Linked DNA regions of Homo sapiens: region 2 is linked to region 1. Evidence: fine-mapped expression QTL. Tissue or cell type: cerebral cortex. Region 1 holds a variant in brackets; the other region holds the start of a gene. All regions are shown on one strand. Distances are from middle to middle. Region 1 overlaps STARD3 (StAR related lipid transfer domain containing 3). Region 2 holds the start of PPP1R1B (protein phosphatase 1 regulatory inhibitor subunit 1B).

What was found. PIP is the estimated chance that this variant, and not a neighbour inherited with it, causes the effect. A credible set is the group of variants that fine-mapping cannot tell apart.
Region 2: PPP1R1B starts here. The variant in region 1 is the best candidate, but not a certain one, in a credible set for the expression of PPP1R1B in cerebral cortex (GTEx, PIP 0.72).

What each region holds. Positions count from the first base shown.
Region 1 is chr17:39,653,009-39,655,867 of GRCh38, forward strand. STARD3 (StAR related lipid transfer domain containing 3) reads left to right here. Exons shown (of 15, transcript NM_006804.4): 2 at 473-742. The coding sequence starts at 524. Among named protein-coding and RNA genes, the nearest start is that of TCAP, 11 kb to the right of the region's middle. RefSeq lists an enhancer at 994-1,555. The variant C/T (reference allele first, on the strand shown) is at 1,534.
Region 2 is chr17:39,625,800-39,628,696 of GRCh38, forward strand. It overlaps PPP1R1B (protein phosphatase 1 regulatory inhibitor subunit 1B), which reads left to right and starts at 1,153. Exons shown (of 7, transcript NM_032192.4): 1 at 1,153-1,674. The coding sequence starts at 1,594.

The DNA.
Region 1 (2,859 bases):
GGGTGGGAGGGGAAGACTGGCTGCTGGGAGGGAATGTGGCTTTGTGCTTGGAAAACAAAGAACAGAGCTTGGGGCCCTCTTCTCCTGGGGGTGGTGGCAGGCCCAGAGGCTGTTGACAGGACCAGAGGCTGGAGCTCAGGGCTAGGCCTGGTAGGAGCAGGCTACAGCCCCAGGGATCCAGGAGGGGGTAGGTGCCCATGCAGAGGGACCCCAGAGCCCTCCAGGGGTGAACCCTGTGGCTGCTGGGCTTGGGGCAGGGAGCACCAGGAAGGAGGACAGATAATTAGCGGAATGCTCAACCCTGCAGCCTGGGAGCCAGGCTGGTGGAGGACATTTGGGCAACAGTGCCCTGGGCCCTGGGCTTGGGACCCAGTGTAGAGACAAATGCGTTTGGGAGCCAGTGGTGGCCCTGGTGGCTGTGTGGGAGGGACAGGAGGAGTTTGACAGGACTCTGCCTCTGCCTCGCCCCCAGCCCTGCTGCTGAGGCCGCGCCCTCCCCGCCCTGAGGTGGGGGCCCACCAGGATGAGCAAGCTGCCCAGGGAGCTGACCCGAGACTTGGAGCGCAGCCTGCCTGCCGTGGCCTCCCTGGGCTCCTCACTGTCCCACAGCCAGAGCCTCTCCTCGCACCTCCTTCCGCCGCCTGAGAAGCGAAGGGCCATCTCTGATGTCCGCCGCACCTTCTGTCTCTTCGTCACCTTCGACCTGCTCTTCATCTCCCTGCTCTGGATCATCGAACTGAATGTGAGTGGGGGCGAGGTGGGGGCACAGGCCATGTTGCAGGCCACCCGGGCCTCAGTTTGTCCATCTGCCACATGGGAGGGCTGCCTCTCCCCTGGGGTTGGTTAGCTGGGTAAAATGAAGACTGGGAGGAACAACAGGGGTTCTCATATTCTGAATGAAGGAATGTGGAGGGGTTCGGAGGGGTTGTGTCATTTGGCCAAGGTCCCTCTGCACCCAAGTGTGTGAAGGCAACGGCCTTGAACCTACCCTCCAGCTGAGTTCATGCTCTTGGCCTCTGCCCCATACTGCCCCCTAGTGGAGGCTCCCGAGAGAGGAGGAGGGGGAGACCCAGCTCTGGCAGAGCTGTTGAAACCTTTGTCTTCTTTCTGCCTGCCACTGCCCTCTGGCTCCAGTTGGTTCATTCATTCGTTTGTTCGATCATTCATTCATTCATTCATTCATTCATTCAGCAAACATTTTTTGAGTCTCTGCTGTGTCCCAACCACTGTGCTAAAACCAGACGCTAGCCAGGTGTGGTGGTGCACACCTGTTGTCCCAGCCGTTTGGGAGTCTGAGGTGGGAGGATTGCTTGAGTCTAGAAGTCTGAGGCTGCAGTGACCCATGATTGCACCACTGCATTCCAGCCTGAGTGACAGAGTGAGACCCTGACTCAAATAAATAAGTAAATAAAAGCAGAGGGCACAGTGGGAAGCAAAACAGGAAAAACTCCCAGTTCCCAGTGGCTCTAATGAGATGCTGCCGGGCAGCCTGGAGACCAGAGCTGCCCCACCCCCACCCCACGCAGTGCTTGG[C/T]CCACCCTCAGGAACACAGTCTAGTTGGCAGTGGCCTGATCTGGTCTCCAGGCAGGGCCAAGCCCACATAAGCAGGAGCCCTGGAAGCAGGGCACCCCAGGCTCAGTTCTGTCCCAGCTCCTCCTCGGCTTTGGCCCGATGACCTCAGCAAGGGACTCAGCCCCTTGAGTCCTCCCCTCGTTTTCCTTCTGCAGCATGGGCTCCCCATCAGACTTCCGGATGGCAAGGGCCCTTCCTCCAGGTCTCATGCTTATGTGACAAGAAAACAATGTCTTGTTAATAGAGGTGATGAGCTCAGAGAAGGGGCCAGCTCCGGGCAAAGAGATTAAGTTTGATTCTGGGCATGTTGAGCTGGAGGGAGAGACAGGGCTCTGAGGGTGACTGTCGATTGTGCACCAGAGATGAGCTGGCACCTTCAGTGAGCTGGAGCCATGGCCATGGATGGCCCTAGGGGCCATCTTACCCATGAAAAAGCTGTGGCCCAGCAGGCTCAGGACCTTCTGCAGAGCTTCTAAGGTCTTAGGCAGACTTCCTTTTCAAGGTCCCATCCAACATCAAAGCAAACACTAAAACTTACCTGCATCCTTCATTGAATACTTGTTTCCTTACCCAAAAAGAGCTGAAAAGATTTTGATAATTTTACTTTCGTTTTGTTTTGTTTTGAGACAGGGTCTTGCTCTATTGGCCAGGCTAGAGTGCAGTGATGTGATCATAGCTCACTGTAGCCTCCAACTCCTAGATTCAAGGGTTCCTCCCACCTCAGCCTCCCCAGTAGCTGGGACCACAGGTGCATGACCACATTTGGCTATTTTTTTTTTTTTTGGTAGAGATGGAGTCTCACTATGTTGCCCAGGCTGGTCTCAAACTCCTGGGCTCAAGTGATCCTCCCATCTCGGCCTCTCACAGTGCTGGGATTAGAGGCATGAGCCACTGTGCCTGGCCTCTGTAATTGTGCTTTTGAAGTTATTTGGCTGTGTTGGCTGCGATTGCTCTGCAGTCCTCATGCGTACCTGGGAATTCTTGCAAAGTGAGAAGATCTAACTTACTAATTGTTTTCAGATGTCATGAAACATTTCAGAATCCTGCACTGAACAATTAGTAGAGTCCACATGATGTTTCCCTTGGCAGACATTTAATTAAAATTGTATTGATTTTCAGTCTTGTAGTTTTACTTTTGTATTTGGGAGCATATATTTTTAGTTCGCTGACAGACTGTGTCTGTGTTGCCCAGTGGTTACAAGGACTCAGTAGGGTCGTGCTGAGCAGGGGGTTTGGAGCCAGAGAGTGGCAAAGCAGGGGCTGAGACTTGGCTCTCCCGAGTCCTGA
Region 2 (2,897 bases), 27 kb before region 1:
CGTCTACACACACCCTCTCAGTGCTAGACAGAAGCATTCAGACCCTCTGCACAGCTCCAAGGAGGGAAACAGCAGCTCCTGCAAAGGCACCCAAGGCCCGGACAAATAGACCAAATAGACAGGGACATTCCACCCACAGGGCCAGCTCCTCCCGCTCCCGCTCCAGAGACACACACAAATACCTCTGGAGAGAGAGAGGCTCACACCTGTCTCCCCCAACCCTGCTTCTGAATGCACCAAATTCATGCACGTGATGGCACGTGTACAGGCAGCCCCCAAACCCACCCCAACTCTGGGCCGGCCCTGTCCTCCCCACCCCATTAGATCCGGAGAGGAAAGACAGGAGCCACGTGAATCTACAGTACATCATGGCAGGGCACATTCCCCTTCTCCCTCACAGGAGCGCTCACACATCCACAACCTCATACCCCAGCAACTGCACAGCGGAGCTGTGGATACAGTCCCCCACCCCCTGCAAGCTGGCACACGCCTGCCCATCACCTTGACAGCCTCTGACATCCTCCCCCACACCCACACCCTCCCCCGCACACACGCAGTCCTCCCACACCCTGCCACTCACACCTGCATCTTTGACACTCTGACACACTTACACAGACACACTCACACCACACCGGACCCCCCAAAACACACTCCCTGGCTATGGGCACCACAGGGCCCCGGCACACCCCTGCACACTCTCCCTGCCACGATGACTGACACGTGTCCTCCCACACACAACTCGGTCACACTCGCTCCCTTTCCAGGACACCCCCATTCACAGCGTGACAGGCTGGTACTCTCCCCACGACCTCGCAGGCCTCTCTGAAACTCCCAGTACCAGGACCACGAAGGGGTTAAAGCCAGAGTCCTGCCTCCCCGCTGCCCCTCTCCCCCTCCCTCCCCCTTTATCCTCTCTGCTGGACTCCATCAATAATGCAGCTTCAAGTTCTGGGGAGACCGCAGGGGGCCCCCCAGCTGGCTCCCCAGGCCTTGGCTCTAACTCCCACCCTCCTCCCAGCCCCAGGAGAACACGATTCTCCATGCTCATTGGCCAGTTTCCCCTAAACCCTCCCTCCGAGCACCCGGGCGCCAGTCCCAGGCGGAGGGGACGGGCTGGGGACCCCAAAGCTGGGACCGGAGGGTGAGCCCGGCAGAGGCAGAGACACACGCGGAGAGGAGGAGAGGCTGAGGGAGGGAGGTGGAGAAGGACGGGAGAGGCAGAGAGAGGAGACACGCAGAGACACTCAGGAGGGGAGAGACACCGAGACGCAGAGACACTCAGGAGGGGAGAGACACCGAGACGCAGAGACACCCAGGCCGGGGAGCGCGAGGGAGCGAGGCACAGACCTGGCTCAGCGAGCGCGGGGGGCGAGCCCCGAGTCCCGAGAGCCTGGGGGCGCGCCCAGCCCGGGCGCCGACCCTCCTCCCGCTCCCGCGCCCTCCCCTCGGCGGGCACGGTATTTTTATCCGTGCGCGAACAGCCCTCCTCCTCCTCTCGCCGCACAGCCCGCCGCCTGCGCGGGGGAGCCCAGCACAGACCGCCGCCGGGACCCCGAGTCGCGCACCCCAGCCCCACCGCCCACCCCGCGCGCCATGGACCCCAAGGACCGCAAGAAGATCCAGTTCTCGGTGCCCGCGCCCCCTAGCCAGCTCGACCCCCGCCAGGTGGAGATGGTAAGGGGCCCGTGCCCCACCCCGGCAGCGTACCCGACACACCCCGCGGGGCTTCTTCGCCCTCCCAAGGCGCTGCCCCGGCCGGACTGGCCTGGGGGTGGGGGCGCAAGGAGAGCCGGGCTCTGCCTCGGTCAGGACGGGGCGCGGGGCCGCGTGTGAAGTTAGCTGGAGACTCGTGCAACTTTTCCCCGCGGCTTTGGTCCTGATCCCGGGGCAAGAGAGTTCCTGGCAGTGAGGCTGGGGGTGCGGGGGTGGGGGGACAGGCCGATTCCAGACCGCCCAGGAGTGGGGTGGGGGCGTCCTTTGGTCCCAGCACAGTCCCCAAAGGGTAGTCAGTCTCCTAGGCTACCACCGGGACCGCTCCGCCTGGCTCTGTCCCAGAGCTGGTCAGATGTGAGCAGCGGTGGACACTGACCTTGTCACCCAGGGCAGGAGTATGAGGCTGCCACCGGGTGAATCCACTACCCTGCCCCTCTCTAATCCCGCGTGTGTGCCTGGGCTGGGGTCTCCAGAACCTGGCTCTGGCCTCCTGCTGTCAGGCCCCAGAGCCCCAACCCCAAGGAGGGAGAGGTGGGGAGTCATCACAAAGCCAGACCTCTTCCCACAGACTACTGAGTCCTCCTGAGGGCCTTCTTGGGGGTTGAGGGGCTTCCAAAGGCTGGCGGGTGCTGTGACAGAGAGCTCCACTTCCCATCCCTAGTGGAGCAGGGGTCACTTGTTGCTGAGCTGAGATGCAGCTGGCTCCCCACTGAGCAGTGATGAGGGGGCCAAGTCATTATGGGGGGAGATAGAGGGCAGGGGGTACAGTCCTGGGCCTAAGCAGCTTTGGGTCATGAGGGTGTCATGGGGAGCTTGGCTGGGGAGGTGGCAGTTTCAGCTTAACTCACCTGGTTCTCTTTGTGCATTTCCCTGGAGCTCAACAGGGACCTAATTAACTGACAGTTGGTCTGATTGCCAAGCTGAGGGGCGGGGCGGGGAGGGGGGCGGTCAGTTGCTGCTTGGCTCACGTAGCAAGGAGGGCAACTTTTCATTTCTCACAAGGACTGGGTGAAGAGTTCTGCAGCCTTACAGAGACTGGAAAAGAAGCCCAAACCAAGGCCCCCAGAGAGGTCCCCCAGGCCCCTTTGGGTCCCTGAGCCTCAGCTGGAGGTGGGGGGTGCCTGCAGTGCGCTGGCTCAGTCTCCTTCTGAAAAGCTGGATCCAGCTTGTTTGAAGCCCTTGAG